7 linked regions of the Homo sapiens genome follow. The protein of the gene in region 7 purifies or fractionates together with the protein of the main gene of each other region. This does not show direct contact. Each region holds a gene or a part of one and is shown on either strand. Other genes may lie near its edges. The genes, in order: BRI3BP, DIPK1A, VKORC1L1, DPY19L1, RFT1, ATP9A and ATP13A3.

What was found.
Region 1: the proteins of ATP13A3 (region 7) and BRI3BP purify together in Homo sapiens (affinity purification with mass spectrometry; one large-scale study listed by BioGRID and IntAct). This does not show direct contact.
Region 2: the proteins of ATP13A3 (region 7) and DIPK1A purify together in Homo sapiens (co-immunoprecipitation; one large-scale study listed by IntAct). This does not show direct contact.
Region 3: the proteins of ATP13A3 (region 7) and VKORC1L1 purify together in Homo sapiens (affinity purification with mass spectrometry; one large-scale study listed by BioGRID and IntAct). This does not show direct contact.
Region 4: the proteins of ATP13A3 (region 7) and DPY19L1 purify together in Homo sapiens (affinity purification with mass spectrometry; one large-scale study listed by BioGRID and IntAct). This does not show direct contact.
Region 5: the proteins of ATP13A3 (region 7) and RFT1 purify together in Homo sapiens (affinity purification with mass spectrometry; one large-scale study listed by BioGRID and IntAct). This does not show direct contact.
Region 6: the proteins of ATP13A3 (region 7) and ATP9A purify together in Homo sapiens (affinity purification with mass spectrometry; one large-scale study listed by BioGRID and IntAct). This does not show direct contact.

The regions. Positions count from the first base shown.
Region 1 is NC_000012.12:125,010,645-125,014,144, forward strand, and holds part of BRI3BP (BRI3-binding protein precursor), read left to right. Parts: intron 1-1,889; coding exon 1,890-1,992; intron 1,993-3,500. UniProt on the Homo sapiens protein: Involved in tumorigenesis and may function by stabilizing p53/TP53.
Region 2 is NC_000001.11:92,846,463-92,849,962, reverse strand, and holds part of DIPK1A (divergent protein kinase domain 1A), read left to right. Parts: intron 1-2,603; coding exon 2,604-2,780; intron 2,781-3,500.
Region 3 is NC_000007.14:65,956,566-65,960,058, reverse strand, and holds the end of VKORC1L1 (vitamin K epoxide reductase complex subunit 1-like protein 1), read right to left. Parts: 3' UTR 501-3,493; downstream 1-500. UniProt on the Homo sapiens protein: Involved in vitamin K metabolism. Can reduce inactive vitamin K 2,3-epoxide to active vitamin K, and may contribute to vitamin K-mediated protection against oxidative stress.
Region 4 is NC_000007.14:34,932,986-34,936,485, reverse strand, and holds part of DPY19L1 (protein C-mannosyl-transferase DPY19L1), read left to right. Parts: intron 1-3,500. UniProt on the Homo sapiens protein: C-mannosyltransferase that mediates the C-mannosylation tryptophan residues on target proteins.
Region 5 is NC_000003.12:53,102,936-53,106,435, reverse strand, and holds part of RFT1 (man(5)GlcNAc(2)-PP-dolichol translocation protein RFT1), read left to right. Parts: intron 1-632; coding exon 633-763; intron 764-2,338; coding exon 2,339-2,483; intron 2,484-3,169; coding exon of another isoform or gene 3,170-3,222; exon of another isoform or gene 3,223-3,241; intron 3,242-3,500.
Region 6 is NC_000020.11:51,607,891-51,611,390, forward strand, and holds part of ATP9A (probable phospholipid-transporting ATPase IIA), read right to left. Parts: intron 2,276-3,500; coding exon 2,211-2,275; intron 737-2,210; coding exon 628-736; intron 1-627. UniProt on the Homo sapiens protein: Plays a role in regulating membrane trafficking of cargo proteins, namely endosome to plasma membrane recycling, probably acting through RAB5 and RAB11 activation. Also involved in endosome to trans-Golgi network retrograde transport.
Region 7 is NC_000003.12:194,428,003-194,431,502, forward strand, and holds part of ATP13A3 (polyamine-transporting ATPase 13A3), read right to left. Parts: intron 3,225-3,500; coding exon 3,102-3,224; intron 3,021-3,101; coding exon 2,941-3,020; intron 2,314-2,940; coding exon 2,271-2,313; intron 2,180-2,270; coding exon 2,070-2,179; intron 1,773-2,069; coding exon 1,676-1,772; intron 916-1,675; coding exon 843-915; intron 1-842. UniProt on the Homo sapiens protein: ATP-driven pump involved in endocytosis-dependent polyamine transport. Uses ATP as an energy source to transfer polyamine precursor putrescine from the endosomal compartment to the cytosol.

The sequences.
Region 1 (3,500 bases), on a different chromosome or scaffold from region 7:
GCATGCCTGTAGTCGCAGCTACTCGAGAGGCTGAGGCAGGAGAATCACTTGAACCTGGGAGGAGGAGGTTGCAGTGAGCCGAGATCGTGCCACTTGCACTCCAGCCTGGCGACAAAGCGAGACTCCAAATAAAATAAAATTAAATTAAAACATAAAATACTGTAGCTGCCCGGGTGTGGTGGCTCACGCCTATAATCCCAGCACTTTGGGAGGCCGGGGTGGGCAGATCACCTGAGGTCAGGAGTTCAAGACCAGCCTGGCCAACATGGTGAAACCCCGTCTCTACTAAAAATATGAAAATTACCTGAGTGTGATGGTGCGTGCCTGTAGTACCAGCTACTCGGGAGGCTGAGGTGGGAGGATTGCTTGAACTTGGGAGGTGGAGGCTGCAGTGAGCCGAGATCATACCACTGCACTCCAGCCGGAGTGACAGAGCGAGACCCTGTCTTAAAAAAAAAAAAAAAAAAAAAAAGCTGTAGCCAATTCACGGAGGCATTTACCCTTCACACGTGAGCCGAGTGGCCCATGTAGGTGGGTTCTATTATGGCAGCACTCTGCGTGATGCAGCCCTGCAGAGTCCCAGCCCCCATAGATACCTTGGTCAGCCCTTACAAGGGAAGGGGCGTGTTTTACTCAGTTTTGCTCAGTTGTTGGGCTGTCATCAATTAGTATCAAGTTCAAGTTAATCCCCTGGGCCAGTAGACCACTTGGTGGCATTCATCATGGGCTCGCTGTTTTTTCCCCTGTAATAGCCAAGGCTGGAAACCATGTAGGTATCCATGAGTATGGGCCTGGCTCCAGGTGTACCATGTTTAAAAAGGATGAGGCAGCTCTGTGTGGTCTGAGTGTGAGTATCTCCAAGACAGAGTGTTGCATGAGCAAAGCAGCTCAGCTGTACACCTGTGCTGCCATTGCAGAAAGAATATGTCTGTGCCATTATTCACCTGGCACGTCTAAGGAAGGGTTCCTCCGGAGGGGGATTCCAGTTGCCAGGAAATGAGAGGGAAGGCTTAGTCTCCACTGAATACCTGTTGGTAGGCTTGAGTTTTATGCTACATGTATACAATATCACTAATTTTTTAAAAAAAAAAGTTAAAATGAGGCTGTACCTTGTATTCATGTTTCTTTAGCCCTGTGTCACCTGGAGGGCAAATAAAGACCTCAGAGGCTCAGGGTCCTTAGAGTTGGATAGAGCATGGGGCTGTATCATTACCAGCTTCCTTGGAGCAGAAACTTCCACTCTTTAAAAATGAGAAACCCGCAGGGTGCGGTGCAGTGTTTCACGCCTATAATCCCAGGACTTTGGGAGGGCCAGGCAGGAGGACTGCTTGAGGCTTAGAGTTTGAGACCAGCCTGGACAACATAGCAAGAGCCCATCTCTACAAAATAATAATAAAGCCTGGTGTGGTGGCTGCACCTGTAGCCCTAGCTACTTGGGAAGCTAAGGCAGGATTGCTTGAGCCCGGGAGTTTGAGGGTGCAGTGAGCTATCATTGCACCACTGCACTCCAGCCTGGTCAACAGTGAGACCCTGTCTCTTTAGAGAAATCAGGCAGAGGAAGGCAGAGATCCTGACCCAAGAGGAAGCATGAAAGACAGCAGGAGCAATGGCAAGCGGCGTAACGCGGCCCTGCAGAGAGTCCCAGCCTCCATAGGTGCCTTGTTCAGCCCTTGCAAGGAAGGGGTCGTTTTCACCAGTTTTTCTCAGTTAGGCTGTGATCAGTACCCAGTTCAAGTCAATCCCCTGGGCCAGTAGTCCACATGTGTGGTATTCATCATGGGCTCACTATTTTTCCCTTCCCAGGTATAAACTCCCAAGCTCCCCAGTTCACTGCTTGACTGATGGAGGAAAACAGTGATTGGGTGATGACCGTTTTCTTGTTTCTGCAGTTCTTGGCCAGGCTGACTGAGAGATTTGTGCTGGGAGTGGATATGTTCGTGGAGACACTGTGGAAAGTCTGGACCGAGCTCTTGGATGTTCTTGGACTTGACGGTAGGTGTAGGGGTGGCATTCACGTAAGGTGTCATTCTATTTTGGTGGTTCTCATAGTGTGGAACTGGTACTCACAGTGAGTAATACATGAGAAGGTTGCGGAGGGCTGGTCAGTGAGGATATGAGTGAACATTTTTTATTTTAATAGTCTCATATATAGGCCAGGCATGGTGGCTCATGCCTGTAATCCCAGCACTTTGGGAGACCAAGGTGGGAGGGTTGCTTGAACCCAAGAATTCAAGACCAGCCTGGGCAACATGGTGAGATCCCATCTCTATAAAAAAAAAGTACAAAAAAATTGCTGGGTGCAGTGATGTGCACCTGTAGTCCCCATCCACTTGGGAGGCTGAGGCAGGAGGATTGCCTGAGATGAGGAATTCGAGGCTGCAGTGAGCTATGATCATGCCACTGTACTCCAGACTGGACGACAGAGCAAGACTCCTCTCAAATAATCATAAAAATAAAAAACAAATGGCCCATCAAAGCTGAGATTTCCCAGATGCCACTTAGGATAAGGTGCGACTGGGTAGTGGGAGTGCCAATTTGTGTGCAAAACACATGGACCAGAGGTATAGTGCTCTGGCTTACTGGCATCCGTGCAAGAAATGACTAGTTATTTAGGCAGAAGGGGATTTCATGAGACAGAGACACTCACAGAACCATCAGAAAGGCTGAGGAAGAGATGCATGGCCTCAGACACTGCCGAACTGGCTGTCCAGGGTTGCAGCTGTTGAAACCGTTGAGTTCGAAGTCACACAACTGTAGTATAATTTGAGGACCAGGAGGCCACTGCTGCCGCCACAACAACTAGACTTTGCATGTGGGTGCAGGGACCCTTGCCATTTCTGGAACCATGCATATCAGCTGCAACACTTCACTTAATTTCCAAAGTCGTGTGTGTATGGGGGAACTGCCAGGTGGAACTTACTTTCTGTCCAGTCCCTAGCTGCGAGGGAGGCAGGCTAATGCGGTTCTTAGCTCTCCAGCTTCTGCCATCCAGGAAGGCAGCCTGGGAGCAGGTGTCACCTGATGCTGCACCAGCCCATCCACCATACCCACCGCACAGGGCAAGAATTGCCAGGGGAGCTGGCCCCTGGTTTTGTGGGCTAGGGGAGGAGGGTAGTCCAGTTTGATAGTGCAGTGCTAGTCACACGTTTATAATCAGGAAGAGAACATTGGTGAGGCACGGCCCCTCCCTTTCTACATGTGGGAGGGGGCACTGATACTGGTCTTGGCGGATGGCAAGGCAGCAACGGTCATGGTAACTGAGCTGGGCACTCCTAGTCCAGTCCTGCAGCCTGTGCTACCCCCAGCCTTACACTCCCCTTCCCAGGTGGCTCTGCCCCACCTCCACCTGCATTCCATCGGTGGGTGACAGGAGCTAACCCGGGCAGAGTGCCCAGGGTGTACAGCTTTTATACCCAGAGGAGACCTTGTCCCTTACCGCCTTAAGAGCTTCAGAGGCATCCCATGCTCTCAGGATGAAGTAACCTTCCCGTTTTCTCTAC
Region 2 (3,500 bases), on a different chromosome or scaffold from region 7:
ATACAAACAGCCGGGCCCGTGGCACGGGCCTGTAATCCCAGCACTTCAGGAGGCCAAGGTGGGTGGATTGCTTTAGTCCAGGAGTTTGAGGCCTACCTGAGCAACATAGCAAAACCCTGTCTCTACAAAAAATACAAAAATTAGCTGGGTGGCCAGGCACAGTGGCATACACCTGTAATCCCAGCACTTTGGGAGGCTGAGGCGGTAGGTCACTTGAGGCCAGGCATTCAAGACCAACCTGAGCAACATTGCGATACCCCCTCTCTACTAAAAACACAAAAAATTAGCCGGGTGTGGTGGCACATGCCTGTAATCCCAGCAACTCCAGAGGCTGAGGCACAAGAATCGCTTGAACCTGGGAGGCGGAGGTTCCAGTGAGCCAAGATCTCACATCACTGCACTCCAGCCTGGACAATAGAGCGAGACTGTCTCAAAAAATATATATGTATTAGCTGGGTGTGGTGGCACACACCTATGGTCCCAGCTACTCGGGAGGCTGAGGTGGGACAATCACTTGAGCCCAGGAGGTCAGGGCTGCAGTGAGCCGTGTTCATGTCACTGCACTCCAGCCTGGGTGACAGAGTGACACCCTGTCTCAAAAAAAAAAAAAAAAACAAAAAAAAACCAGACAAGATTGCTTCCCTTACAGACCTTACATGATTCCAGAGGGACAGGAGGTACAAACAGTTGATAAATAAATAAATAAACAAACAAAATAATTGTAGAATATGGTGTGTTCTGTAGGAGACACAGAGGGCAAATTGATAGAGAATGCAGTGTAAGGGATGGTGAGAAGTGCTTTAGAGGATGTGATCAGAGAAGACCTTTCTGAAATAATATTTGAACTTATACCTTAATAAAAAATTCATAGGCATGGGAAAAGGACAGGATGAACTAAATCACAAAAGAACTGCAAACAGCTGATGAACATAATGAAAAAAAATTCTACCTTACTTTTCATCAGAGAAATAAGAATAAAACAGTAGAATATCTAATTGGGGTAGAAGAAAATACAACGAAACATCTGGAGCAGTGGAAAATTGCATTTTAATGTTCATCTTATGGTTCCTAAATTTTCCTATATAAATATGCATTATTATTATAGAAATTTAAACTAATTTTTCAGTTGACAGTATTAATCATGTTAAAGACAATTTCTAAAACAAAGTCCAACATTTGAGTGTCTCCTGCATGCCAGGCACTGTTTGAGGCACTGAGGGAGACAGATAAAGCCTCTGGCCTCATGTTCTAATGTGAGATGAGACAGATAGTAATGAACTGATAAATAAATAAATATGATAATTTTAGACAGTGCAAAAGGCTATGAGGATAATGAAACAGGGTTAGAGGTGACCTGGGGGTGGAAGAGGATCTCTTCTAGACAGGGGGTCAGGGAAGGCTTTCTAAATGCAATGTCTAATCTGAGACTTGAATGATGTAAAGGAGCCAGCCATGTGAAGATCTGGGAGAGTACATTCCAGGCAGAGCCAGCAGCAAGTGAAGCAGGTCAGGAAGCAGAAACAAGCTTCAACCTGTCACAGAAAGACCAGTGTAGCTGGGACTTTGAGAAACGGAGTACGTGGTACAAGATCAGGTTGGAGACATAGGCGAGGCTAGCTCAAATGGAGCCCAACCGGTCATGGAAAGGACTTTGGACTTTAATTGAAAGGGGAATTTATTAGAGGGTTTGGAGCAAGGCAGTGAAATAATGTTTTCTTTGGATTAATATTAAGAATGAATATGATCTTATTTATTTTTTTATGTAGAAGAGGGGCAACCTATCCTAGTGGTAAAGACCTCAGCTCTTTTCAGCATGTTACTTCACCTGTATCTGCTTCAGTTTCCCCATCAGTGAAATAAGTATAATGATAGTACCTACCACCTAAGATTGGTACAAGGATTAAAATAATAACATAAATCAGTAAAAGCCAGGTGTGGTGCCTCATACCTACAATCCCAGCAACTTGAGAGGCTGAGGCAGGTGGGTCACTTAAGGCTAGCAGTTCAGGACCAGCCTGAGCAATACAGCAAGACCCCATCTCTACAAAAAATGTTTTTAATTAGCCAGGTTTAGTGGTACATGCCTATAGTCCTGGCTACTTGGGAGACTGAGGCAGGAAGATTCCTTGAGCTCAGGACTTTGAGGCTGCAATGAGCTATGATTATGCCACTGAACCCCAGCCTGGGTGACAAAGCAAGACCCTGTCTCTAAAATAAATTAGTAGACCATAGGACATAGTTAACACTATATAATATTAGTTTGATAAATAACTAGATACTTAAATAGTAGTTAATTCTGGGGAAGTGGGATTATGGAAGTAGAATGTCTGGGAACTTTGCTTTTGCCTTACATCCTTCTCATTGGACTTTTTGAAAAATATATTTAGGCATGCATTACTCTTATAATTTAAAAAATTAGTTTAAGGAAAAAATCTTGAGTGTGATTTCAAGTTTGCAGTTCAGAAATAAAGTCACACCTTAACCTCAATGTTTGATGCTTGTTTTGTTTTGTTCAGAGGAGGAGGACCCTAAAAATATAGTAGTATATTTTTTAGAGTTTTCTACTCAGTATAATACATAACTTGCCACTCTTTTTTACATAGATGTATTTAGGGATTTGGGATAATCTACCAGGTGTTGTGAAATGTCAAATGGAACAAGCGCTTCATCTTGATTTTGGAACTGAATTGGAACCAAGAAAAGAAATAGTGCTATTTGATAAGCCAACTAGAGGAACTACTGTACAAAAATTTAAAGAAATGGTCTATAGTCTCTTTAAGGTAAGCATACCCATTCATATGTTGCTAGTGTGAAGTGGGACTCTTTAGAGGAATTGGCAGGACCTCATCCTAAGCCATTAAAGTGTTGATATTCTTTGACCTCTATCAGATTCTCCATCCTGAGGAAATAATTATAAGAGGCCGGGCGTGGTGGCTCACGCCTGTTATCCCAGCACTTTGGGAGGCCAAGGCAGGAGGATCACTTGAGCCCAGGAGTTCAAGTCCAGCCTGGGCAACATAGTAAGACCTCAGCTATATATATATATATATACACGTATATATATATATACGTGTGTGTGTATATATATATATATATATACACACATATATATATACACACATATATATATATATATATATATATATATATATATATATATATATATATATGCCAGGAGTGGTGGCATGTGCCTGTAGTCCTAACTACTTGAGATGCTGAGGTGCGAGGATTGCTTGAGCCTGGGAGGTCGAGGTTGCAGTGAGCCAAGATCTCACCACTGCACTCCAGCCTGGACGACAAAGTGAGACCCTGTTTCAAAAAAAAAAAGAAAAAGAAAAGAAATCTGTGTTGGAGAATGTTTACTTTAACATTATTTATGATAGCTAAAAATGTCCAGATATGAGGAGGGAGTTCATTAATTAATTGGAGTGCTGTACAGTTTGACATGAAAATTAATTCAAAAAAGGTGAAATAAAATGAGTATACTCTTAGAATTGTGG
Region 3 (3,493 bases), on a different chromosome or scaffold from region 7:
ATTCTGATTTGAAGTATACGCTTTGGAAAAATACTCCTTTTGGTGTCCAGTCAGTTGAAAGACAATGAACCAATACAGTTTGTTTTGTTTGTTTTGAGACAGTCTTGCTCCGTCGCCCAGGCTGGAGTGCAGTGGCGCAATCTTGGCTCACTGCAACCTCCACCTCTGGGGTTCAAGCAATTCTCCTGCCTCATCCTCCCAAGTAGGTGGAACTACAGGCATCTGCCACCATTCCCAGCTAAATTTTTAAAAATATTTTTAGTAGAGATGGGGTTTCACCATGTTGGCCAGGCTGGTTTCGAACTCTTGACCTCAGGTGATCTGCTCGCCTCAGCCTCCCCAGGTGCTGGGATTATAGGCGTGAGCCACTGTGCCCGGCCTCCAATATGGTTCTTGCTATAGAACTTGATTTTCCCCTCTCTTGTGGTTGAGCCCCGTGTCTCCACACAGACCCTCCTTTTTAGCTTTCCTGTGCAAGCTCCATGAAAGAAAGAATAAAGTTAATTTCATGTGGTTTTATTAGGCATCGTCCATTTTTTAAAAATGAGTGTAGTCAGTTCCAATTAGGAATCTAGAGCTTCTGTATTTTTTTTATCAACTTCTCTTTAGTTTTTCAAAGGAATCAAGTTTTGTGTTCCAGTATGTCAAAGTATAATGAATAAAACTTTTAGTTGACAAACATTAAGAAAAGTTAAATGTAATAGACACATTTAAATGGTTTACAAATTAGGGGCAGTCCATTGTTTTTTTTCTTGAGCTGGAGTCTTCCTCTGTCGCCTAGGCTGCAGTGCAGTGGCGTGATCTCGTCTCACTGCAACCTCCGCCTCCCTGGTTCAAGCAATTCTCCTGCCTCAGCTTCCTGAATAGCTGGGATTACAGGCGCACACCACAATCCTGGCTAATTTTTCTGTATTTTTCAGTAGAGGCAGGTTTCACCATGTTGGCCAGGCTGGTCTTGAACTCCTGACCTCAAGTGATCCACCCGCCTCTACCTCCCAAAGTGCTGGGATTACAGGCATGAGCCATTGCACCCAGTGGGGGCAGTCCCTTTCCACAGGTCTTGAGCTCCAGCACAGAACACACTTGTTCTATTCCGTGAAGTATGGCTCAGCTGTATTTCCAACGGATTCATCTTTCTTGCCGATGCTACCTTTTTAGAGGATTATACAGGGAGTATTCAAGGTAAGCTAAAGTAAAACTATGGAAAAACAGCTCATTAATACATTCTGAGTGTTCACAGAACTGTAGGCAGTGACACATTTTTGTCATTAATTCTTGACAATCACATACACCGTAAACCTACAGGAATTCCAAGAACTAGAGGTCTGAGGACTCTGAATCTTCTGCAAGTTACATATGATTTAAGAGAAAAAGAATCAACCCTGTATACCTTAGAAATGAGGTTACAGTATTGACTTCAAGAATATAAGGCTCCTACTGAGTCTAAAAAGACTTCGTTTCAGTTCTTTTGGAATGCAACCCTGCAGTTTAAGAATAATGGGAGCACAACTTCCACAGGTAACTTCTACATTTATTTTATACCAAAAAAGTTATGTGCAACAAATAAACATTCTTACATATTTACATTTGGTTTTATTTACCAGTTAGCAAAACAGTGCCTTAAATCTCTGATAAAGAGTATTTCTATCTAGATTAAAGGGGAAACCTGCCCAGTGAACTCCATTTTAAATGACTGTTTACTCTGGAGCTTAAAGCACTAGTAAGAAATATTTCTGATGGAACATACTACACAGATCATATACCTAATAAATACTTAGGCCATGCTTAATACAGTTTTATAACAAAATATTTCACCTTTTCTGGGCGAATTTGTAGTAAAAAATGTTTAACCAAGTAGCCGGGGCTCCCACCCTTGCCCTTTTTGTTTGATGGAAGGGTAGTTCTCACAATTAGAAACCATAAGTGCTGCCTGAGGTGTCTGAAATGTTTCACCCATGACTGTGTGTTAGAGAAAAAGACACGAGGACAGAAATTGCATATTAGGTCATTAGGTCTTTTTCCCCAAATAGGTTACCAGAAATCACAGTGGGTCTCCTTGTTGGCATCTAATAATGATCTTCCAAGACAAGATCTCCTGTCACTCTTGGTACCAATCTAAGTTGTGAAGTAATTGCTGAAGATAACTCTGTACTTTTGCAAATAGTCTTTTCCAAAACTAAATGAAAAACAAAAGTCAACAAATAGTTTTTATTTTTATTTTTTTATTTGAGACAGAGTTTCACTCATTGCCCAGGCTGGAGTGCAATGGCGCAACTGTGGCTCACTGCAACCTCCACCTACTGGGTTCAAGCAATTCTCCTGCCTCAGCCTCTGGAGGAGCTGGCATTACAGGTGCCGCCACCATGCCCAGCTAATTTTTGTATTTTTAGTAAAGACAGGGTTCCACTATGTCGGTCAGGCTGATCTCGAACTTCTGACCTCAGGTGATCCAACCGCCTCGGCCTCCCAAAGTGCTGGGATTACAGGTGTGAGCCACCATGCCCAGCCAGCAAACAGTTTTAATTTCACTGTAGTCTTGGTCCTCTTTGAATGCAGTCTCTCTCTTTTTTTTTTGGGGGGGGGACAGTCTCGCTCTGTTGGCCAGGCTGGAGTGCAGTGGCATGATCTTGACTCACTGCAACCTCTGTCTCCCGGGCTCAAGCAATTCTCCTCCCTCAGCCTCCCGAGTAGCTGGGATTACAGGGGTGTGCCACTGCGCCTGGCTAATTTTTGTATTTTTAGTAGAGATGGGGTTTCACTATGCTGGCCAGGCTGGTCTTGAACTCCTGACCTTAGGTAATCCACCCGCCTCGGCCTCCCAAAGTGCTGGGATTATAGGCGTGAGCCACCGTGCCCGGCCGAATGTAGTTTCTTTGAATGAAAATAGTCAATGCTTTGAACATCATTTGAAAGTAATGAATTTAAGGAGAGGACACATGTATGAAGGAACAGTGATTCTGGGCACACAGCTAGTTAAACCTGAGTTATTTCACCGGAAATTTACCTTTAGTGAGAGCAACTAGCTGTAATGCAAAACAAATGAAATCCTCCAAATCACCTAGATTCCCTAGAATTTATCATCTAACCCCAATTCCTGTTATTTCTTCAAATGATATTTGTGAACATCAAGTCAATAAATGGCTTCATTTGGAACAAATCACTTAAAAAAGATGAGGCATGGAATTACTGCTAAAAACAAATGTTTCCCCTCATCTGTCCTTTAACACTGGTGGCTAGTAATGCTGCAGTGTTCAAATATTCAGTCTAAAACAGGCAAAACAATCTTCTAATTTTGTAACACTGGTGATTCCCCCCCTCTTCTGGGCAGAATCGGAGGTATAGAAAGGAATCTGAATTCTCCAGGGCAAAAAACACCCAATTAACACCCACCAGGATTCTGTTACTGAGACACTGGCATTACAATGCTGTTATGACAGGCAGTACGTGTTCCTCTCTCAGTGAGAAAAAGGGTATTAATTCGACTGGGCCATAG
Region 4 (3,500 bases), on a different chromosome or scaffold from region 7:
TTCTTTGGGCTTCACTCTCTTGAAACAACTGTAAGTTACTGGAACATAAAAATAATTTTCGTAACCTTTTTTCTCCAAGCTAACAATGAGCCTTTGAGAGTTCATATTCTGCCTAGACCCCTGCATAGAGTTTGAATATGTGAAAGTTGCAGAGGCTTTGTGCTGTAGAGTGTTGGGAGAGCTCCCTGGATTTGCATAGCTCTAACAGTCTCATGTTTGGGTAGGCAGAGCACTGTTTTACCCACACAAGAAGGGATATGAAGGCAAATTCAGGATGTATGGCAATAAACTTTGCACACTAAACAAAATCAGCAGACATTGAACTGACTTCAAGTCACTTACGAGCAATCAGACTGAGAGTTGGGGTGCAGAAGAGGGTGTGCTGGATTTCCCCATCTGGACCTTGACTTGCCATTTATTGTGTCTGTCACAGCAGGAGTTGAGTGGGAGGAAGCTACGAAAGTGACTCTCTCATCTGTTTTCCCCACTCATTAAAACAACACTCTCCATCTAGTACAAGATCTAAGCCAGGCTGATGACACACTGTCAGGAAACCTTGGACAGGTCCACTCTGCTTCAACCTTGACACAAAACAAAAGCTGTGCTTTCTGTCCTGACAGGGAAGCAAATGGGGAGTTCAGATAGGAGAGGAAAGTGAAGAATGACTAATATTTATCTAGTGTTTACATTTAGAGTAGGAAGTTTCTTGACAAAGCTTTCTGCCTGGTTTGGGACCTTCCTTATTTCCTTGGCCTTCACTCTCCATTTCAGTTATGATCAGCCTGAAACCCCTGTAGATTGCTGGGACGTGAAAGTATGTTGGAATGGGGGAAGCAGATGGGGAACTCAGTTAGGAGAGGAAGGGGAAGAGGGACCAATATTTATCTAGTGCTTAATCTGTGCCTGGCAATTGGTGAGCACTATGTTTAAATGATCTCATTTACAAGTGGCTTAATTGTATGGCTTGATTATTCCTTAAATATTTGACACTGTGTTTAAATATAAACACTCAAATATATTTGCATGCAAGTTGTAGATTAGTTTTAAATTAACTACAGTTCTCTGCTTTCTTTTACTCCAATAATAGAGTTGACATAGAATACATGTATTTAGAAGGAAATTATTCAGATTTTCACTAATGCTATTTGCAGATGGCTGGCCTGGGGAAACCTTGGGAAACTCAGATGAGGACTAAATAGTGTTGCACAAGGCAAACAGAGCTCCCCAAGACAGCTGTTTGCCCTCTCTTTTTCCTAAAAGCTGTTGAACTCAGGAAAACTGTGGGTCGTTCTCTACTTTCTGTGTGTCTCACTCTCTGCCACCGTGGGCCCTCAGTGTTGTAACAGTTCAGCCTTGACGTGTATGAGAAAATTACAAGGTAGAAAACCCATGCCCAGCCATATGATCATAGGTGTTCCATGTGAGTAGAAACCAGTGTCAGCAAAGGTGTGCAAAAAGTGTGCACTTGAGCCCTCTTCATGGGAACACTCACTGGCAAAACATTTCTAGGGGATAGTTTGATGAAGGGAAGGTAAGAAAAAAATTGTGCAGTCCTTTGGCAGAGTGATAATGTTGCCTCTAGAGCAGGGGTCTCCAAGCCCCCGGCCATGGACCAGTACTGGTCTGTGGCCTGTTAGGAACCCAGTCTCACAGCAGGAGGTGAGCGGAGGGTGAACAAGCATTACAGCCTGAGCTCTGGCTCCTGTCAGATGAGTGGCAGCATTAGATTCTCATAGGAGTATGAACCCTATTGTGAACTGCACATGCGGGGGATCTAGGGTACGTGCTCCTTATGAGAATCTAATGCCTGATGATCTGAGGTGAAACAATTTCATCCCAAAACCATCGCCCCCACCCTCCAGCCCATGGAAAAATTGTCTTGCAGGAAACCAGTCCCTGGTGCCAAAAAGACCGGGGACCGCTGCTCTAGAGGTTTAGTTTGCAGAAGGGAGCTCTGCACAAGACTGTTTGTAGCTGCATTGCTTTATAATGGCAAAATGGGAAACAATTAAAGTATCTGTCTGTAAAGAATTGGTTAAATAGTACATATGAGAACTAGCAGCTTTTAAAAACAGTAGAATAGATCTTTATGCACTGAGATGGAAAAATGGTTCCACGTTTTATTGTTCAGTATACAGTCCCAGAATAATTCCATTTTTGTAAAAACAACTCAAGAGCATCTGCCAGGGTTTTCCAGAGGGACAGAACTAATAGGATAGATGTGGCCGGGCGCGGTGGGTCACGCCTGTAATCCCAGCACTTTGGGAGGCTGAGATGGGCAGATCATGAGGTCAGGAGATCGAGACCATCTTGGCTAACACGGTGAAACCTTATGTCTACTAAAAATACAAAAACTTAGCTGGGCGTGGTGGTGGGCACCTGTAATCCCAGCTACTCAGGAGGCAGAGGCAGGAGAATGACGTGAACCTGGGAGGTGGAGCTTGCAGTGAGCCGAGATCACACCACTGCACTCCAGCCTGGGCGACAGAGGGAAACGCCATCTCAAAAATAAAAAAAGGATAGATGTATATATGAAATGGAGTTTATTAAGGAGTACTGACTCACACGATCACAAGGTGAGGCCCCACAATAGGCCATCTGCAAGCTGAGGAACAAAGAAGCCAGTCTGAGTCCCAAAACTTCAAAAGTAGGGAAGCTGACAGTGCAGCCTTCAATCTGTGGCTGAAGGCCCAAGGTCCCCTGGCAAACCACTGGTGTAGACCCAAGAGTCCAAAAACTGAAGAACTTGGAGTCTGATGTTCAAGGGCAGGAAACATCCAGCACAGGAGAAAGATGGAGGCCAGAAGACTCAGCCAGTCTAGTCCTTCCACAATTCTTTTGCCTGCTTTTATTCTAGCCATGCTGGCAGCTGATTAGATGGTACCCACACAGATTGAGGGTGGGTCAACCTCTCCCAGTCCACTGACTCAAACATTAATCTCCCTTGGCAACACCCTCACAGACACACCCAGAAACAATACTTTGATCCTTCAATCCAATCAAGTTGACACTCAATACTGACCATCACAGCATCTATGTATATAATGATATCTGTGTCTGTATGTGTGTCTGACATTGGAGAAAGATACAGCAGATAGCAAATATTGTATGTTCTCACTTATAAGTGGGAACTAAGCTACCAGGATGCGAAGCATAATAATGGTACGGACTGTGGACTCGGGAAGCGAGGAGTGGGGTGAGGGATAAAAGACTACACATTGGGTACACTTTACACTGCTCTGGTGGTGGGTGCACCAAAATCTCAGTAACTGCCACTGAATAACTTATCCGTGTAACCAAAAACCACTTGTTTCCCAAAAGCTATTGAAATAATTTTTTTTTTTTTAAAAAGGTCCAGCAGGATATATGCTGGATTGTTTATAGAAGTCACCTCTGAGAAATGCTATTGGAGATGATGGTGACTTTCATTTCTTAAAATGTATGTAGGTCTATATTTTGATACTTTTATAATGACTGATTATTATAAATTAAAGGTGTTA
Region 5 (3,500 bases), about 140 Mb from region 7:
AAAACATCAACTTTGCATTAATGACCTGTATAAGAAAGTACTGTTGATGGAAGCATTCTGTATCTTGACTGTATCATCGTTGGTATCCTGGTTGTGATATTGTACTATAGTTTTACAAAATGTTACCACTGGGTAAAGGGTATATATGGGATCCCTCTATTACTTCCTATTTTTTTGTCTTTTTTATTTATTTTTTATTTTTTGAGACAGGGTCTCATTCTATTGCCCAGGCTGGAGTGCAGTGGTACCATCACAGCTCACTGCAGCCTCAACCTCCTGGGCTTGGGTGATCCTCCCACCTCAGCCTCCCAAATAACTGGGACTACAAATGCACACCACCACGCCTGGCTAAATTTTTCCATTTTTGTAGAGACAGGGTTTTTCCGTGTTTCCCAGGCTCATCTCAAACTCCCTGGCTCAAGCAGTCCACCCACCCTGGCCTCCCAAAGTGCTGGGATTATAGGCATGAGCCACCGTGCCTGGCCACTATTACTTCTTATAACTCTGTGTGAATCTATAATTATCTCAAGATAAACAAACTTTAATGAAAATATTAAATAATTTTAATAGTGCTATAAAAATTAAAATAGAAAAACCAACATGATTGTTGTTTCTTCTTTTTTGTTTTGTAGGTGTGTATGATATAGTGAATAATCTTGGCTCCCTTGTGGCCAGATTAATTTTCCAGCCAATAGAGGAAAGTTTTTATATATTTTTTGCTAAGGTGCTGGAGAGGGGAAAGGATGCCACACTTCAGAAGCAGGTAATGTTGGTTCTTATGTCATCTCTCAAGTGAATTCTCCCTTTAATTGCAAGACAGACAGGAGTGTGAAGCAGTCTGTTTCTCTTCTGTTTGATCAGGAATTTTCTTATAGATTTCATTCTTCTATTACATTCTTCATGATAGTGGGACCCAGGGCTCACCTCTTCTTTCGTGGCCTTCTTGCTTTGCTCTTGGCTGTCCCTTCCTTCTCACACCTTTGTTATTCGTTGTGACCTTACTCTTTTTGGGGGGGGGGGCGGGGATAGAGTCTTGCTCTGACGCCCAGCCTGGAGTGCAGTGGCATGACCTCGGCTCACTGCAACCTCCACCTCCCAGGTTCAAACGATTCTCCTGCCTCAGCCTCCTGAGTAGCTGGGACTACAGGCATGCGCCACCACACCCAGCTAATTTATGTATTTTTAGTAGAGATGGGGTTTTGCCATGTTGGCCAGGCTGCTCTTGAACTCCTGACTTCAGGCAGTCTGCCCACCTCAGCCTCCCAAAGTGCTAGGATTACAGGTGTGAGCCCCCATACCTGGCCATGTGACCTTACTCTTGATCCAGCCCTCTCAGGACTCTAAAGCTGTCCCCATTGCCCTGCAGATGCCCAGCCATGGGCTAGTCTTAGGCGTAAGAATGCTTCCCTTATCCTCAGAGTCTCAAGAGCCAAAGGATGCAGAAGTTGGAGCCAGGCTAATCAAGGGCATAGGGAGGAGAGGAAGTGGTTGTTGGCTTTCGCTCACCACACCAATTATTTAAGCTTCTTACAACTGGGACATGCCCAGAGCTACACTCTGACTGTAAGATTCTGTATACTCGGGTTGGTAAATACAGAAGAAGAGATTTTAATCTAGGAGTATTTTGTTGTAGGAGCTTCACTTTTTCCAAAACCACTGAAAATGTCTGACTTTTCTTAGAATAGCAAGCTAGTTCAGCCTCTTGCTTGTCTTAGAAGAAATTTAGTAAAATACAGTTTATGCACAATATCTCAAAATGAGCTAATCTGGTACTCAGTCTGATTTAGGAATATTTTCCTAAGAGTACCTTCACAGTATCATCATAATTTTGGAATGTTTAGCAGGAGAAGCACAGAGCTGGCTAGTGTATATGAAAACTTGCTGCACATTTAAGAATAAATATTAGTGGTCTGGTGCAGTGGCTCATGCCTGTAAGCCTCACGCTTTGGGAGGCCAAGGCAGGAGGATTGCTTGAGGCCAGGAGTTTGAGATTAGCCTGGTCAACATAGTGAGACTCCCTTCTCTATTTCTATTTAAAAAAAAAAAAAAGAACAAATATCAGAGGGGAAAGTGAGTGTTTCCTAAGCAATATTTGAAACAATTTATCCCAAGTGAATTGAAAACTAACCCTCCCCCTTACGACCTAAGGAGACACACACTTTTTCCTTCATTTGCTAACTGACGTGAAAACAAACACACTACAAAAAAATAGTGATATCCATCACGCTGTTGGAAGAGTGAACTGTAAAACAGTGAAGGGAGAAGGCCAGACGTGAAGGATGAAGGTTTTCTTCAGCTCATGATTCATCCAACTTCCTTCCCTCTTCCCTGGCCCCAGGAGGACGTTGCTGTGGCTGCTGCAGTCTTGGAGTCCCTGCTCAAGCTGGCCCTGCTGGCCGGCCTGACCATCACTGTTTTTGGCTTTGCCTATTCTCAGCTGGCTCTGGATATCTACGGAGGGACCATGCTTAGCTCAGGATCCGGTACGCACAAGAGTTTTTCTGGATTTTTTCTGATTTCCCAACATAAATAGAAGAGTCACGAAATTCAAGAACTTGTGCACACACAGTTGTTATCTGTGTCAGTGTAGGGAAAACTGTCTGGTGGCAGGGGCTGTGGGACTGTTCCCCTCGTTCAACTCCAGACACACACTCAAGGTATAGGCAGGGGCGTTGGCGCCAGGACAATCAGCTTCCCCAGCCTCACTTGGAGAAGTTATTAGGACTTCTCCTTGCTGTTGGCTTTCCTCTCGGGCCTAGAATGTGTTTTGCCAAGCGCTTCCCTGTGCTCCCTCTGGGGTGAGGGAGGAAGGCAGAGGGCAGACGGTAATGAGTCTCCACTTGGTACTAAACACATCTGAAGATAGTAAATGCCACATAAATCTCCCAGCCTAGTGCATAAAAGCCTCTGAAGGATAACCCAAAGCCATTTGCAGAGAATAAAATTGATCTCTGCAAATAAAATGGTATATTTAATCCAGTGACTCTCAGTTTTTGAAGAAGAAAAGTATTGAATGTGTCTAATTTTGAAACACCAGGCCGCTGAGGATCTCACAGCACTTGTTAGGTCTTGGGGACTTCATCAATTTCAAAATGTGCTGGGCTGTAAGCTGGCAGTCCATTTGCAGTGCTTCATCTTGGGTTTAGCAAAGATGTTTTTAATTTCTCAGGTCGCTGGACAAGAACGCTGAGGACTTCTTTCTGCTGCCCCATCTCAATATAAAGGGCTTTGTCAAATGCCATTTTACAAGTTCACTAGCATGTTTTAGTCTCCACTACAATGGGGCCCAAACTTTTGGTGTTAGGGGAGGAAGGGCCAGGTTTCTATACCAGAGCAAAGGTCATTAAGTTTGGAGAAACACCTGCTGTGAAACCAGTGAAGTGGTTTGCAGCTCCCTGGGGCTTGTGCTGTGAGAAGTGTATTTCCATCTGGCAGCTGTGGGGAGGCCTCATGAGGAAGGCATTAGTAAGTTTATGGGCAGAGATTGGGAACTCGACTAT
Region 6 (3,500 bases), on a different chromosome or scaffold from region 7:
AAAATTAGCCAGGCATGGTGGTGCACGCCTGTAATCCCAGCTACTCGGGAGGCTGAAGCAGGAGAATCGCTTGAACCCAGGAGGTGGATGTTGTAGTGAGCCGAGATCGAGCCACTACACTCCAGCGTGGGTGACAAAGTGAGAATTAGTCTCAAAAAAAAAAAAAAAAAGAATTAACATTAAAATTAACATTACATGGGAATAAACCTTCCCTTGGGTAAAAAACCCTGAAGACAAATAAAATTATACACCTGCCTAGGCACACGCCACCACACACACTTTTTGGAACTGTACACAAGAACATCTCTGGGAGCAAACGTTAAGTTGCAACTGCAAAGCGGAACTGTCAGGGGCTTTTTGCAAGTCGTGAGTTGGCTTGTTTTCAGTTTATCTATTACTGTACTTTTTCACGTTCTTTATACCAGTGAATATATTACTGCTTTAAGAAAAAATGTAAACTCCCACACCTTCCCCCCAAAAGTAAAAAAGCTACCAGTTCAAGTGTGTTCAAATCAGAATTGGAGGGTCTGTGTGAAATAAATTCAAAGAAAAAAAGCAGGGAGGGAGGGAAGGAAGGGAAAAGCAAAGGAGGAAAGGAGGAAGGAGGGACTGAAAAGCTAACAGAACCTTGAGAAGATCCTTGTAGAGCTCAGGATACAGCATGGCAACTTCCGATTTGACATCTTTGTCCAGGACCAGAGAAAACACAGGAAACATGGTGTAAATTGTGGAGTACCTGGGAGAGAAAACCGCCATAGGTAAGACCTGGCTGACGCGATAGGAGCTATGTGCTGTGCCAGCCTCCGGCACCCAAGTCCCAACCATGCCTCTAACAAATATTTACTGCTTGTCTATTATGCTCCGGGGCTGGCTGTAAGCACCAGAAACCCATGAGCAAAAATGGACAAAAATGTCTGCCCTGAAGAGCTTTCATCCCGGTCAGCGAGTCAATAAACAAATAAATTAGGTAAACTCTATGTGTGTTAGAGAAGTGCTAAAGAGAAAAATATAATGGGGTAGAGGAAATAAGACGTGTGTGTGTGTGTGTGTGTGTGTGTGTGTGTAGGGGGTGATGGTACAATTTTAGAGGCTGAGGAACAGAACATTTGAGTGAACACCCACAAAAGGTGAGGGCCAGCCAAGCCAATCCCAGGAGGAAGAGCATTCCAGGGAGAAGGAACCACCAGTGCAAAGGCACTGAGGCGGGAGTGGCTGTCATGTCTGAAGAACAGCCATAAGGCCAGTGGGGCTGGGGCTGAGGGCGACGGAAGAGGAAATGAGGACCCACGGGAAAGATGGGACCAGACCACGGAAGGTCGCACGGCGCACAGCTCAGGGAACCCCTGACTATATTCTGTAATGTTCTTGTACTCTTCCAGAACCCGACGAAAGACAGCCCGCTTTTCCAGTTAGAAGCAGGCAGAATTCTAGTGCCTCCTCTCAGGCTGAACTCATCAGCCAACACAGTAGGATGGAAAGCGGACTCTGTGAGACTCTCCAGAGCGCAGCTGACCTTCCCGCACCCGCCGTCTCCTCATAACCAGAAGTGGCCTCAGCTGCATGTGTCTGTATCTAGGGCACTCGGTAACCAAACTCCACCTACCTGGGTGATTCAGAGACTGAGCACATTCTCTGAAAAGGTCAGAAGGATCATCCTGAAGTTCCAGGTCAGTAATGGGGGTGGGTTTGCAGGCTGCAAAGGCCCAAGTGACACCATCTCTGTCACTGTGGCACAGCAGCCAAGCTCTGTTACTTGCACATCCCCGAGGCAGTGGACTCTGGCCCTCCCTGGAGCTCCAAGGATGGGACTTCTACTGGGCTCAGTTCAGGCCAGGAGGGCATTTTTCAGATCCCCCACCCCTTTTTATTAAGACCCCAGTGAAATCACCAAGTCTGCAAACCTTCCACCTTGCTCTCCTCAATCAACTGATAACTCTGGAGTATTTTTTCAAGACCAGGTACAAATGGCAAAGTGCAACACACCACACACATCTCCAACTCCACTTCCTCCATCTGGTTAAGGGCTTAACAGCTCAAAACCTTGTTAATTGAAGGAGGTTCTAAACCATGGTGCTGGGCCTGCATTCGCTGGGGCTGGGAATCCAATGTGGCTTGGGAACCCAAGAATTTTTCCACCACGTTTCTTCTCTCTGTTGCAGCATTTGAAGAAGGTTTTGTAAACAATTAATTCCTTGGCAGGATTTCCTTACCCAATGATGAGGAATCCTTGATAGAGAGGGACGGAGGCAAAGTAAAACACGGAGGAAAAGACAGCCTGTGCCAAGGAGAGAGGAGGATGTCACCAAAAGTCATGACAAAATCCCTTACATTTACAGAATAAAAATAACACCTGATACTTACATAACACCCGCGCCGGCACTGCTGTAAGGTACTTTACATGGATTTGCTCATTTCATTCTCACAACATCAACAACAACCCTATGAAGTAGGTACGATTCTCATCATCCTCATTATGCAAAGCAGAAAGTGAGGCATAGAGAGGGTACGTGGCTTGCCCAAGCCCACACAGTTCCTAAGCAGCAAATCTAGGAATCATTCCCGGGTAGGGTGATGTATCACAGCTCCAGGGTCTACTCAGCCTGTTGTGAATATTTATTAAGTTCCAGGACCCAGGAATGCTTTGTACATGAGCACAGCTGATCTCCAGAGCAGCCCACAGGATCAAGCCCTACTATCACCCACACTTTACAGAAGGGGAGGCTGAGCAGGTAAACAGCCCTATGGGACTCAAGCCCAGCTGTGGCCACAGCTCTGTGGCCACACTTCTAAACAGCTCGGAATCCTCACCTCTGTAGGCATGCACGCTGCTAACCAAAGTGCCGTAGGTATGGAAACACATACAGAAAAAGAGCCTCTGAAGTGTCTACGGGGGCTGGGATGGCAGAAAAGGCTTCACTTCTTATATTACATGTTTCGGTATTTGGGGAAATTTTTGAAAAGAGCATGGTGACAGATTATTTTTGCAATTAGACAAAAGCAATGAAGATATTTACAAACCCTCGCGGAAATGTCTGCTTCCTGCTTTGGAAAATATTAGCTGCTGGTAATGATGAATAGGCTGGGGAGATCCAATCAGGCTTGAAGCTCTGTTAGCTCCATCTCTGGACCTCTATGGGCTAACAGAGGAAACACGGTCTCCAAGCTGATATCCATTCATATAAAGCTGAAGGAAGGCCAGAGACAAATGCTGCCTGAAAGCTTTTAGAAAGCAGAAGAAAGCAAGGCAGAGATACCCTAGTCATTAGAAATAGCATCAGACCAGGGCTAGCTCCCCAGAGCACCTTCAATGGACACAGAGAGAAAGCATGTAAGAAACACGTGCTTTCTCGGCACAGAGCTCAGAGCGCAGGTGATCCTGAGCGCCATGGCCACAGGAAGCCCCAGTTCGCCCTGGCTGCGCCGGAAAAGCCACTTTTCCAGTGACTTTTCACCCAGGCTGTGCCGCTGCTTAGGAAGGATGGTTGTAAAAATGTCAAGAA
Region 7 (3,500 bases):
TTGAGGTCAGGAGTTAGAGACTGGCCTGGCCAACATGGTGAAACCCCGATTCTACTAAAAATATAAAAATTAGCAGGGCATGATGGTGCACACCTGTAATCCCAGCTACTCAGGAGGCTGAGGCAGGAGAATCGCTTGAACTCGGGAGGCGGAGGTTGCAGTGAGCTGAGATCGTGCCACTGCACTCCAGCCTGGGTGACAGAGACAGACTCTGTCTCAAAAAAAAAAAAAAAAAGAAAAAAAGAAATTTCTATTTTTCCCTTTGTAACTAGCACCTTGTGAAAAGATACTTTGAGACTGTGAAAATCCTGCTCCTCATCAAACTTTCACTAGTTTTATCATCTACTAAAGATAAGTGGTTCTCAACTGGAGGATTTTGCACCCCAAAGGAGCATCTGGCAATGTCTGGAGATATTTTTTGTTCTAATCTAGGGGACTACGGGAAAATAGGCATAAAGGACATTGTTGACACAAATGACAAAACCTGAATATAGGTTTTGCACCAGATATTATATCAATGTTAAATTTCCTGATCTTTACAACTGTATTTAGTTACATAAAAGAATGGTTTTGCTTTTAGAAAATATATACTAAAATTGTCAGAGGCAAAAGAGCATAATGACTCAAAACTTATTTTCAAATATTTCAGGGAAAAAAATAGAGACAGAACAATTAAAAAATTGGCGCAAGATATAAACAACTGGTAATAAAATAACATATTTACAAGGAATCTGGAGAGGTGTGAGCTATGTTACAATTGTTGATGTAAATTTACAAAAATTTAATAAGTCACATCAGAATTTCATACACTTTAAAAATCAATAACAAAGCAAAATACTCACTTGTAAATACCACTACCAAAATGATTGCCAGATCAATGAAGAGAAACTGGAAGTCTCCTAGGTTACTTAAGATCTACAGAAGTAATTTTAAAAACATTATTAGTTTTTGGGAATTATTTTTATAGCGTCCCCAGGTTTTATTAATAGTTTGGATTTTCCCTATAATGACAACTTAAAAATGACACTCGGACCTGCTTAAAAATTGAAATATAAGTGTCTCTGAAACTAAATATAACATATATTTATAAATATTTGATTTAGTATATTAGTATAAAAGGCATCTCCTTAAAATTCGTTCAATAGGCTGGGCGCGGTGACTCACACCTGTAATCCCAGCACTTTGGGAGGCCGAGGCGGGCAGATCACTAGGTCAAGAGATCGAGACCACCCTGGCCAACATGGTTTTTTTGGCAAAAAGAAAACACAAACATTTACTCAAAATATTCAACGTTGTAAATTAGTATCTTCATCTAATACCATCCCTTCTGATACTTTCTACAAACGGTCAAATGGGATAGTGTCACCATGAGTCTTTAGGATGTCAGAACACTTTGATTATAAAATCTGATAGGGTACCTGTGGCCATCGCTGTTTATACTTTTTCTCCAAATGCAAACCATTCTCCAAATTCAACAAACCACTGTTGAAACATCTTTTCTCATTTTAACTTTTTCAATTTGCTATTCAAACTACAGTAAATTGAAGGTAAATTTATAGGTACTACTCACAGAAACAATTACTAATGGATGCATTCAAAATCAAACACATACGCTCAACATCTTAATTTACGGTGCACATTAAGTGTTATCTCTGCACACAATGTTAATACTCACAGAATACAGCAGAGTAACACTGAAGTACTGGATAATGCTGTACAATGCCATGAATTTAAACACACAGAAGGAAGTTATTAAAGCAGCACGGCCTTCCCTGTGAAAAGAAATCAAATGTCGGCATATGAATAGAAGCATTTTAAACTCCTTTTCCAAACCACAATTTTATCTTGACAGATGAACATCAACATTCAACGGCTACAACAAAGTGCTTATCCACCAAAAGAACTAAACCAAATGAGGAGTAGCAATCAATCTGTTACTAATAAGTTACAGCTCAAATGTGCTAATCTGCTAATATTAAACAAATTCATGTTACTTTTTATGATAATTTTCTCTTCTGTATTATCAGAGACAGAGAAAAAGGGATGAGAAAAATTTTAATTTGTACTACCTGATAAGGTTTGGCACACAGGAAATACTAGGAGTCTTAGAGGTAAAGGGAGATGCCACTGAAGCTTCGAGCTCCGATAAGGAAATGCCTCCGTGTGCCCTCTTCAAAGCCTAATAATTTTAAGAAAACTGGTTAAGTTTTGTGAATATGATTTAGGCTAGAGTAAGAACTATAAAACTAAATCACAAAAACTATACTTACACCACAATCATTTGCGCCATCACCACACATCCCAACAAAATAACTAAGAAACAAAACAATGTTAAGATTTTAATTAATTTCTTAAACTACAAAACATTTAACTTATTAAGACTTTTCTATTACAGTATTATAAAGAGCTAACACACCAAGATTCCCCCAGTGGAACTATGAATCTTTTCACTATAATGAACACAGGTGTGCTGCTTTGCAAACAGCACCAGACCACAAGTGAAATGAGCTAGGTTATTGTCCTATTTCTGTCACATTATCGGCAAATCATTTTGGTGTCTCAATTTCCTCATCTTTAGAGCAAAGCGCTTGTGCCTACAGTCTTTAGTATGGCTACTTTTAACGTTATCAGTAAAAATTTATCCCTTAATAACCTGAAACATAACTGTTTACTAAAATGATTAGCCACTTCTATCAAGATAGAGCACCTGAAAGAATGAAGTCATAGAGAAAAAACTGTGGATATTGTACTTTAGCTAAATAAAAAGCACATGAGACTCTTTTAAAGCGGCACTTAAAGTTCTGAACTATCTTATAGATCACAATTATATATATAAATATGAAATATTAGTATAAGAAACATATAAAAATTATTTTTCTGATGCTGAAATGAAACCATCATTCATCAAAAACCAAAACCAAAAAAGACACCAATACTTACTCAACATTTTGCAATGCTTCTATCAACTGTGTCTTCTGATCAGGTGCCATACGGGCAAACACGGTGCCATGCAACATCAACTGGAAACAATAATACAAATTTTTTTAAAATACTGTTGCGATGCATTCATGTGAGCACACACATACACCCAAATTACTTACCTTAGGAACAAGGTCTTGAAAATGCTCCAGTATCACTGAGAATGATTTTCCATTCATTGCAAAATGATAACGAGTCATTTGAAGATCCTCTAAGCTATCATGGACCAATTTAACCGGAATAGCCTGTGTATATGAGACATTGGGAACAATATTTAGGCAACCAAACCAAGTAAAACAATTCTATTTTAAACATATTTGTTCTAAAACTGAATTCTTTCATTTGATATGTTCCACAACATGATGAAAGCCGGACATTTATTCAAAGTAAAAAGAAACTCAATTAAATATCAGCTTCAATTTGAAATGATGCATGAACTGAGTATGATGGACCACCTGCATCATTTACCACTAGTTACCTGAAGAATACGATAAACATCTGGAATTCTTGTACTTTAAAAC